Regions from separate parts of the Homo sapiens genome. Here region 1 is linked to region 2. Evidence: fine-mapped expression QTL. A gene starts in region 2. The other region holds a variant in brackets. All regions are shown on one strand. Distances are between the middles of the regions. Region 1 holds the start of LOC105370970 (a long non-coding RNA gene). Region 2 holds the start of RCCD1 (RCC1 domain containing 1).

What was found. PIP is the estimated chance that this variant, and not a neighbour inherited with it, causes the effect. A credible set is the group of variants that fine-mapping cannot tell apart.
Region 1: its variant is the best candidate, but not a certain one, in a credible set for the expression of RCCD1 in lung (TOPMed, PIP 0.75).

Annotation. Positions count from the first base shown.
Region 1 is chr15:91,006,462-91,011,829 of GRCh38, forward strand. It overlaps VPS33B (VPS33B late endosome and lysosome associated), which reads right to left. Exons shown (of 23, transcript NM_018668.5): 6 at 3,340-3,385; 7 at 1,409-1,503; 8 at 1,008-1,112; 9 at 489-585; 10 at 191-268. It overlaps LOC105370970 (a long non-coding RNA gene), which reads left to right and starts at 4,093. Exons shown (of 2, transcript XR_932611.3): 1 at 4,093-4,708. The variant C/T (reference allele first, on the strand shown) is at 2,185.
Region 2 is chr15:90,951,853-90,957,220 of GRCh38, forward strand. RCCD1 (RCC1 domain containing 1) reads left to right here and starts at 3,032. Exons shown (of 8, transcript NM_001017919.2): 1 at 3,032-3,096; 2 at 4,760-5,048; 3 at 5,261-5,368. The coding sequence starts at 4,883. UNC45A (unc-45 myosin chaperone A) reads left to right here. Exons shown (of 20, transcript NM_018671.5): 18 at 1,077-1,194; 19 at 1,303-1,458; 20 at 1,607-2,241. The coding sequence ends at 1,864. It overlaps RCCD1-AS1 (RCCD1 and UNC45A antisense RNA 1), which reads right to left and starts at 2,641. Exons shown (of 2, transcript NR_170325.1): 1 at 2,483-2,641; 2 at 386-1,353. RefSeq lists enhancers at 1,389-1,889, 2,714-3,268, 3,069-3,178 and silencers at 3,399-3,528, 4,759-4,988, 5,109-5,158.

The DNA.
Region 1 (5,368 bases), 55 kb after region 2:
ACAGCTATTAGGATCTCCAATGAGGACTTCTCCTACCATTCCCTGAACTGCCATAAAGGTCCTCAAACTATTTGGAAGCCAGCAGTTCATTCAGGGTCTGGGTCTCTCCCACAAACCCTGCCCCACGTGGGAGGTGCCAAGGCTGATGACCCGTCCATCTTGCCAAGATGCAGAGGACCATAGCACTTACCACACTTGATGCGGAAGGTGTCATCTACTAGGCCCTCATAAACCACTTGGGAGCAAAGTGCTGTCACAAAGTCCACATCTGAAACAGAGATCCCTGACCATGAAGGTTCTCCCTGACCCAGCCTTCTACACAGCATGTCCAAGGGCAGCTTTGATACTTTCCATAGGGCCAAGGACCCACGCTCCTCAAAGCTGGGATTCACAGCCCTAACTTTAGGATTTTAACTTTGCCACCACGCCTTCCATATTCCCGTGTCTTCTAGGGCTGAAAGATGACAGGAACGCTGGGCATAATTTACCTCTGTCCAAGAGAAAGATATGTCCAATCTCTGGCCTTCGGCCCTTGGTTTCGCCATCCTCCTCCTCCTCCAGGTTCCTCCACAATTCATATGCCATCTGCCAGGGCCCAAGACATTCTCAGTCTTGTGTCCAGGTCCCTACTGCAGCCCCATACCTACAGAAGTCAGCCCTTTCCACGTGATACTTCCTCTTGTCCCCGAGACAGGAGCTAATTATTCACAATATGGCCCTATCTACTCCCGTCTGTGTCTATCTTTCCCCAACACTCTTCCTACTGATGAGAAGATGTGTTACTCTGTCCCCAAAATAAAAAGAGATTTAGGAATGCTACCCAGGAGATCCTGGCTTTTGCTTCTCTGTTAGCCACACAAGTTCTCCTCTCTGAGGATCTATTCCAGAACAATGAAAGCAAAGTAAAGAATACACCTCATATCACAGGTGCCCTTGGATAACCCCAGGAGGGTACAGAACAGGGAAAACAGCGTCTGCTGGGACAACAGTACTGCTAGTGCTCTTACCTTGGCGCACCTGCCAATTCCATAGCAGTTTGGAAAGGGTCCATAGAGAGTGCTGAGAAGGTGTAAGGCCTGAGCTACAGTGTTGATCCAACGCTGATCTCCTTCCTGCAGGGACCACACAAGCCACAAAGATATGAATCAACCCAGTAGGACCACCTGGAAAGTGGCTAGCCCTAGAAGCCCTGGAGCAGGGTGGCAGGGCCTGGGGGATGCTTGAAAGGTTTTCATTGGCTCCACAGGAAGTCCCACAGAGACCAATCTGTAGCACTCAATCACCACATCACTATCACTTGTGATAAATTACTTGCGTTGGACAAAGGTTATATTGGTATTTCTAGCCCTCTGCATCCCACATTTGTCCCCATCCCCTGATGCCAAGACACAAGGGCCTCTGCATTTACCAGAAAGTAATCCCTGAAAAATTCTGGTAGTTCCATGCTCAGCAGATCCACATCAAGAGGCAGCAAAGAGAAGGCCCATTCATCACAGCTCACATCTGTGGGGACAGAGAGCATCAGCCTCCCTGCAGAAGGTACTTAGCTCCACGTTAAGAGGGAAGGTCCGCCACAAATATTTGAGTGCGTGCAACAAATATATGAGTGCCTGCCACATGCCAGTACTGCATTAAGCAATGGAGGCTCAAAGAAGAATAAGACACAGTCCCTGCCCTTAAGGAGCTCACAGTCTGATAAGGAAAGGAGATGTGTCCACAGCAGCCTGTAATACAATGTGATAAGTGGTGGGTTTTTACTAGAGGGCTGACCAAAAGTGCCGAGAAAACATTCATTCATTCATTATTTATTTATTTATTTAGAGATGGAGTTTAGCAATTTTCATCCAGGCTGGAGTGCAATGGTGCAGTCTCGGCTCACTGCAACCTCCGCCTCCTGGGTTCAAGCAATTCTCCTGCCTCAGCCTCCCAAGTAGCTGGGATTACAGGTGCACGCCACCATGCCCAGCTAATTTTTGTATTTTTGGCAGAGACGGGGTTTTGCCATGTTGGCCAGGCTTGTCTCAAACTTCTGACCTCTGGTGATCTGCCTGCCTTGGCCTCTCAAAGTGCTGGGATTACAGGTGTGAGCCACCACGCCCAGCTCACTCATTCATTATTCAGCATATATTTACTGAAAGCTGCCTACATGTAGGACTGTATGAACACCAGAGATACAGCAGTGAG[C/T]AAAATGGACATGCTCCCAACCTTCTGGAGCTTACAGTCTAGTGAGGGAGACACACCAGACAAATTATGACACAAACTATTAAATCACGGTTGTGCTCCAAAGAGGTCAAACAGCAAGCTGTGAGCACATATATTAAAGGGATGTAACCACAACTGGGGGTATAGGAAAGACTTCCCTCAAGAAGAGAAAATCAAGCTTAGAATTTGGGTAAGACTCGGGAAGGCAAAAAGCTATAGGGTGGAGAACGTTCTGGGTACCTGGAAAAGCATGGGTAAAGTCTCTCTGGCTGGAGGGTGGCGAGTCAGGAGAAGGAAGCAGCACACGATGAGGCTAATGGGACAGGAGGGGCCAGACTGTGCAAGGGATAGGAGGCATGTTGGGGATTCTGGGCTTTATATTGAGCCGCTGCTATTTCCAGCAGGGAGGGCTGTGATCAGGTTTGGGTTGTGTGGAGAATAGCGGAGGAATACACAGAGGGGAGGCCCAGTTTTTCCTGTGGGAGCCTTGGAAGGTGAGAAAAGAGTGGCTGGTCATTTCCAACTCTAAGCCCTGGTGTTCCTTTCATACTACCCCAGGAGTGTTCTTTTCTTATCCTTTCTTTTCCCTCCCTCCCTCTCTCTCTTTCTCTCTTTTCTTTTATTTTCTTTCTCTCTCTCTTTCTTTCTTCCTTCCTTCCTTTCTCTGAGTCTCACTCTTGTTGCCCAGGCTGGAGTGCAATGGCGTGATCTCGGCTCACTGCAACCTCTGCCTCCCGGGTTCAAGCAATTCTTCTGCCTCAGCCTCCCGAGTAGCTGGGATTACAAGCGTGCGCCATCACGCCCAGCTAATTATTGTATTTTTAGTAGAGATGGGGTTTCACCATGTTGCCCAGGCTGGACTCAAACTCCTGACCTCAGGTGATCCACCCCCTCGGCCTCCCAAAGTGCTGGGATTACAGGCATGAGCCACTGCGCCCAGCCCCCAGTAGTGTTCTAATTCGTGGTCCTATTCCCATTCCCATTCTCAGGAACCTCTCCTCCTGCTACACTAACAGGAATAAGACCAGGAAAAGAAGGAGCTGGTGGTGGGGGTGGGGTGGGGGGGTTGGAGAACAACAACAGTTTTTTCTTCTGTATGTTCTCTTTCCCTTTCCACTCACATTCATCTCCTCTCACCTCCATAGATTCCCTCTTCCTCAAGCACCATCTCACACGCATAGAACTGAAAGAGAAAAGGAAATTGATTAGTAACTACCTTCTTCTCTGTTCTCTCCATTTCTCTGGAGTTCCTCTGTGGTCACTGATGAGGACAATAATTGCCGAACCCAGTGAAAGACAAGAGAACCCAGACTCTTAAGATCTAGAAAGAACCATTAGAATCATTCAGCCCAGCACTTCAGTTCTTTCTCATCCATTTAATTTATGTTTGAGTAAATTGCTTCTTATCTCCCTGAGAGAATGGAAGAGGTTTACAAAGGAGAAGGAGTTCAGCTGTCTTCAAAAGGTAAGTTGTACAGACAGAGATGAGAGCAATGGCATGAAGTGCTCTGGAAATTGTGGAGGAGCAGATGGGAGGAAAAGATCTGTACAAGGGAGAGTGAGTTCTGTTTAGGACATGCCCACGGGACCTTGGGAGACACAGACAAGGACTTGGGATTAAGTAGCATATATGCTGTATTTAAAGTGGATGATGTGGCTGGGTGCACTGGCTCACTCCTATAATCCCAGAACTTTGGAAGGCCGAGGCAGGTGAATCGCTTGAGCCCAGAAGTTCTAGACCAGTCTGGGCAACATAGTGACACCCCATCTCTACAAAACAATGCAAAAATTAGCTGGGCATGGTGGTGTGTGCCTGTAGTCCAGTTACTCAGGAGGCTGAGGTGGGAGGATCACTTGAGCCCAGGAGGTCAAGGCTGCACTGAGCTGAGATTGTGCCACTGCACTCCAGCCTGGGCAACAGAGTGAGGCCCTGTCTCAAATAAATAAATAAAGTAGATGGTCTGTCCAAGAGAAAAGAACACGCAGAGGAGAGCTAAGGACAGGACTCTAGGGAACACAAGATGAAAGGGGGCCAGAGTACAGGACCTGGCAGGGAAGACTGAGAAAGAATACTCAGAGAAGCAGGGGCAGGAGAAAACAGCAACAGTCAAGGCAGGAAAGGTGAGAGTTGCAAGGAAGGGTGGGCAACAGTGTCAAATGCCAGGGAAGTTAAGTAGGATTAACATTAAATAGACACCAGTGGATTTGACAACGGAGACCTGAGGGAGACTAGATGAAACGATGAAGGTGGAGATGAGGAAGCAGAAGCAGTGACAATAGAACATTCTTCACAGAAGCCTGGCCCTGAAAGAAGGGGGAGCTCTGAAAGGGAAAAGAGATGAAATGGGAGACATTGTTTAGAAGGCATAGACATGGGTGAAGGCAGAAGAGAAAGTCTACCTGGTAAAGCAAGATAATGGAGAAGGAAAGCAGAAATGGGGCCAAGAACTGGCATGGAACAGCTCATCTTAGGAGGGAAAAGGCCACGATCTCTTCCTCCTTTGAGGTAAGTGGGGAAAGGGTGAATATTTTAAAGTAATGAGAAAGAATGCTGAGGGCACTCACATCTGATAATGAGTTGACATTATTAACAGCTAATGTTGTAAGCCCTTAAAATGGTTTAGGCATTGTTCTTAGTGTTTTACAGGAATCACTTGTCTTCATCTTCATACTAGCTCTGTGAGATGTAGATCAATGCTACGTGCTCCTTATTTTACTGTTACACAGAAGAATCCTATTCCTCCCTCACTCATTTCTGCCAGGAAAACTGAAATCTTCAGGCCTGCTTTTAACTTTTAATGCTAAGTAATGGAATTCCAGAGCCAGGTCTGAAAACTGCCAATCTTCATAATTAACAAAGGAGTCTCAAAGAAGAGAGAGAGATGCCTCCTAATATAAAATTAGGTCAAAGAATTTGATTAGATAAGGTGTTAAGTGGAGAACACTCATAAAAATAACTATTTTGTTTTTCTGTGTAATAGAGAGGCTTGTAGGATTATTTTAACTTGTAGGATTATTCCCTGTTAATACAAATCTGTCCTTGGCCAGGCGCAGTGGCTCATGCCTGTAATCCTAGCACTCTGGGAGGCAGAGGTGGGCAGATTGCCTGAGCTCAGGAATTTGAGACCAGCTTGGGCAATATGGCAAAACCCCACCTCTTTTAAAA
Region 2 (5,368 bases):
AGGCTACAGCAGTGAGCTGTGATCATGCCACTTTACTCCAGCCTAGGTGACAGAGTGAGATCCTGCCTCAAAAAAACACAGAAACAAAAACCCTCAAATGTTAGGTGTTAGCCTCACCATCACGACCACCCTGGTCTTCTACATCCTAATTTTGAGCATTTCCCACAATCCTATGCTATTTCCTAGGCCTGGTTAGAAGGCTAAGAAGCACTGTAGTTCATACCTGGTGCAAGAGGGTCCTTGGACATTGCCAAGGGAAATCCTCAGCCCAGGACTTGATTGCATGAGGGTGTGGGTGCAGGGGTGGAGCAGATGTAGAAACTCTGATGATGCTGCCGGTGTTAGTCTGTTCTTGCATTGCTGTAAAGGAATACCTGAGACTGGGTAATTTATAAAGAAAAGAGATTTAATTGCTTCCTGGCTCTACAGGCTGTGTAAGCATGGCATTGGCATTTGCTCAGCTTCTGGGGAGGCCTCAGAGAGCTTTTACTCATAGTAGAAGGCAAAGCAGGAGCAGGCACATCACATGGTGAAAGTAGGAGCAAGAGACAGTCGGGGGAGGTGCCACACACTTTTTTTTTTTTTGAAATGGAGTCTCCCTCTGTTGCCCAGGCTGGAGTGCAGTGGCGCAATCTTGGCTCACTGCAACCTTCACCTCCTGGGTTCAATCGCTTCTCCTGCCTCAGCCTCCCTGAGTAGCTGGGACTACAGGCGCGCACCAGCATACCCAGCTAATTTTTTTTTGTCTTTTTAGTAGAGACAAGGTTTCACCATGTTGGCCAGGCTGGTCTCGAACTCTTGACCTCAAGTCATCTGCCTGCCTCGGCCTTCCAGAGTGCTGGGATTACAGGCGTGAGCCTCCACGCCCGGCCGAGATGCCACGCACTTTTAAATAACCAGATCTCACGAGAACTTACTATCACGAGGATAGCACCAAGCCATGAGGGACCCATCCCATGACCCAGTCACCTCCCACCAGGCCCTACCTCCAACATTGGGGATTATAGTTCAACATGAGGGTTAGAAGGGAAAACATCCAAACCGTATCCCTGCTGCTTCCTCCTGTGGCCCTGCAGGCAGAAGATCCTGAAGGAGAAGGCTGTGCCCATGATAGAAGGCTACATGTTTGAGGAGCATGAGATGATCCGCCGGGCAGCCACGGAGTGCATGTGTAACTTGGCCATGAGCAAGGAGGTGAGGGTTGGTCTGGGTGCTCATGACAGGCGGGGATGCAGAGGTACCTGTGCCCTGGCTGGGCTTTACACCCAACTGACTTGGTCCACTCCTCACATCTGGCCACAGGTGCAGGACCTCTTCGAAGCCCAGGGCAATGACCGACTGAAGCTGCTGGTGCTGTACAGTGGAGAGGATGATGAGCTGCTACAGCGGGCAGCTGCCGGGGGCTTGGCCATGCTTACCTCCATGCGGCCCACGCTCTGCAGCCGCATTCCCCAAGTGGTCAGTGCCTCTTCTCAGTGGGGGAGGAGGGACGGACCAGGAACTCCCAGCAGCAGCTGAAGGGGGCAGTCCTAGGGTGTGTGGGTGTGTCCCTTGCCAAGGTTGAGCCTGTTGCCCAGGGGTCATATCTACCCTGTTTTTCTCACAGACCACACACTGGCTGGAGATCCTGCAGGCCCTGCTTCTGAGCTCCAACCAGGAGCTGCAGCACCGGGGTGCTGTGGTGGTGCTGAACATGGTGGAGGCCTCGAGGGAGATTGCCAGCACCCTGATGGAGAGTGAGATGATGGAGATCTTGTCAGTGCTAGCTAAGGGTGACCACAGCCCTGTCACAAGGGCTGCTGCAGCCTGCCTGGACAAAGCAGTGGAATATGGGCTTATCCAACCCAACCAAGATGGAGAGTGAGGGGGTTGTCCCTGGGCCCAAGGCTCATGCACACGCTACCTATTGTGGCACGGAGAGTAAGGACGGAAGCAGCTTTGGCTGGTGGTGGCTGGCATGCCCAATACTCTTGCCCATCCTCGCTTGCTGCCCTAGGATGTCCTCTGTTCTGAGTCAGCGGCCACGTTCAGTCACACAGCCCTGCTTGGCCAGCACTGCCTGCAGCCTCACTCAGAGGGGCCCTTTTTCTGTACTACTGTAGTCAGCTGGGAATGGGGAAGGTGCATCCCAACACAGCCTGTGGATCCTGGGGCATCTGGAAGGGCGCACACATCAGCAGCCTCACCAGCTGTGAGCCTGCTATCAGGCCTGCCCCTCCAATAAAAGTGTGTAGAACTCCACTGTGTGCCCTGTCCTTGGGCAGGGAGGGCTGCTGTGAGTGGGAGTCTCTGAGTGGGTGAGTGTGGGTGAGTATGGGTGTGAGCTGGGCGTGGGTGAGTGTGCAACGGAGCTTCACAGTGGCAGACCCACCTCCATGGAAGGAATCCAATGGATTCCCCAACCAGGGCCCACTGAGTTGCTTCTTAATCCTACTGGAGGGACAAAGGGTAAGCCTAGGAAGCTAATCAATAAGAAACTCACCAGGTGCGGTGCCTCAAGCTTGTAATCCCAGCGCTTTGGGAGGCTGAGGCAGGTGGATCACTTGAAGTCAGGGGTTCGAGACCAGCCTGGGCAACAAGCAAAACTCTTTCTCTATAAAAATACCAAAAAAAAAAAAAAAAAAAAAAAAAGAGCAGAGTGTGGCGGCATGCACCTGTAATCCCAGCTACTCGGTAGGCGAAGGTTGCAGTGAGCCCAGAGCGCAGCCTCCCAAAGTGTCGCCTGGGCGACACAGCGAGACCCTATCTCAAAAAATATTAAACTATCCCAAGAAATAAGTCGTTTAGGGTAGAGACTCCCATATGCTGGGCCTTCAGTACGTTTGTCTTTATATTGGGAGTCCTCTGTGGCCTCCGCTGAGGGCGCTGGGGCGGGGGTTGGGGTTGGTGGCCAGCTGAGCCTGGTTGAAGGGCGGCTTGGGCCCCGCCCACCACCCCAGCACGTTCGAGGAGGGCTAAGCCCAGCGTGAGGCTCGTTGGCTCGACAGAGGCACGTGACGGGTCCTGAGCCAATCCGTGGAAGGTAAAAGCTGCTTCCTGTTGGGGCATGAGTCCGGCGCGTGTCGGGTTTTGAGCTGCCGCGGTCCCGGGACTGAGGTGGGTGGCGGGGTCCGCCCGTCTTGGGCGTCACTCCTCGCCAAACCTTTAGCTCAAGTCTTAATGAATGTCCTCTCTGTGGTTCTAATCCGAGCTCCAGCCCCACGGGTTCCTGCAGGGGCGGGACCACCTGGCCCAACCTCTGCCTTGGTCCAACGCCCCCGGTTTCCTCCAGGGCCTTGGTCCAACGCCCCTCGGAGGTTTCAGCCCATTTCACAGACCGGGCCGCAGGGCCCCGGCGTAGGCCTCGGGACCGGAGAGGCCCTCAAGGGGAGTTGAACAGGGCTGCGGCCGCCGCGCCCCGGGCGGCGACGTCACCGCCCTTGCTGGTGATTGGCCGCCTCGCGCCGCGCGCCCTTCAAACCTTTTCTCCCCGTGGCTGTCGGCGCCCGCTGGGCGGGAGGCCTTTCCGGAGGCGGCCGCTCTGCGCCTCGGCGTTTCCTCCAAGGCTGCCCACCAGAAGGACCTGCCCGAGAGGGTAGAGGGCATAGGGTCAAGATCAAGGTCAGAGGCCCCCTTGGGTTGGGAGAGGACACGGAAGGGGTTAGGAGCCCAGGAACTGGGGTCTCAGGAGAGACCCAGGATCTGACTTAAGAGGCCTGAAAATGCCCATGCAATTCTGCTTCAGCCCGGGTGCAGCGGCTCACGCCTGTAATCCCAACGCTTTGGGAGGCCGAGGCGGGCGGATCACTCGAGCCCAGGAATTTGAGACCAGCCTGGGCAGCATAGCGAGACCCCTGTCTCTATTATATTAAAAAAAAAAAAAAACAAACCCGCTCCAGCCGAATCTGCTTGAAGTTGGCGTTGCTGTTGTAACCACCAGACTGTTTGTCTCCCCATTTAACGGTTAGCTCCTTGGGAGCAGACAGCTGTCCTCACTGGCAGAGGAGGAGCGCTCAGTAAATGCTCGCTGGACGAATAAATGGCTAGATAAGGTACAGTTGAAATTCTGTCTGTATAAGTTTCTCAAAACCAGTAAGATGTCCAGGGATAATTTTTTTGTCAACACTAAATACTGGATTCAGTAAGCTAATACTGTGTGTTTATCATGGCATGTACTCGCACCAAACCCTTTATTTGCATTTATTACAATTCTGTGAGGAAGGTTCAAACAGCACCGCCCCCACCTCCCTTTGTAAACTGAAGAAACGCAGTTGGACTCAGGTGGATTGGCTGCGGTCCCAAGGCCCCGCTGAGTTGCAGAGGCACTGCCTCCCAAACGCTCTTCTGCGTTCCGCTGTGGGGAGAGGGGCAGAGCACTGTGTGTGGAGTTGGTGGGACCTGATTTCAGCGCTCTGCCCCTCTCTGTCTGGCTGTATGAGTGTGTAAGGGTTACTTTGTCTCAGAATCTCCTCTGTAAAACGACCATTTTGGTTCCCAAGATTACATGGGATAAAGTGCCAGATGCTGGGAAGCTGCGGGACGGGGTGGGGGTGTCGGGGGCGCTCGGATCCTAGTCCAATGCCTAAAGGACAGGCCACTTCGTACCCACTTTGTGGCACGCTGAGCTTGAGCCAAAAGGGAGGACAGGGAAAGTGCCTCTAAATATTTGAGCATCTTTGTAAATCCGGTAGGGCATTAGTCAGGGCGCCTGCTCAGCGAACCTTCGTGGCACGGACTCTGCCTTTGTGGTCGGGAGAATGATAGTTTCTCCATTTTACAGATAAGGCAGCTCCAGCCCCTGGAAGGCCAGAGACTTGCCAGTGTCCCACTAGCGGGCTCTTCGCAAGAATCCCCCCGGGCCCGCCGCAGCCAGGCGGCGGCCGGCAGAGGGCGCTGCTCGGGCATGGCGGAGGAGCGGCCGGGGGCCTGGTTCGGCTTCGGTTTCTGCGGCTTCGGGCAGGAGCTGGGCTCCGGACGCGGGCGCCAGGTGCACAGCCCCAGTCCGCTGCGGGCGGGCGTCGACATCTGCCGCGTGAGCGCGAGCTGGAGCTACACCGCTTTCGTGACCCGTGAGCACTCCCCGCCCCGTCCCCACTTATTCCAGCCGCGCTCCCCAGTCGCCTCCCCGCACCGCTGTGGCCAGTCCAGTTTGTCTCCCCCGTTCAGGCCGCCAGCCCCACATTCTGGGTTGGTCCCCAATTCGACCCCTTCCCAGGAACACCCCGCTCCCCCCATCCCCGCCGCCTCCATTCTGGCCACCCTGCTCCAATCCGCCCCGCAGGTGGAGGCCGCTTGGAGCTGTCGGGCTCAGCCAGCGGCGCGGCGGGCCGCTGCAAGGACGCGTGGGCCTCGGAGGGGCTCCTCGCGGTGCTGCGCGCCGGGCCGGGGC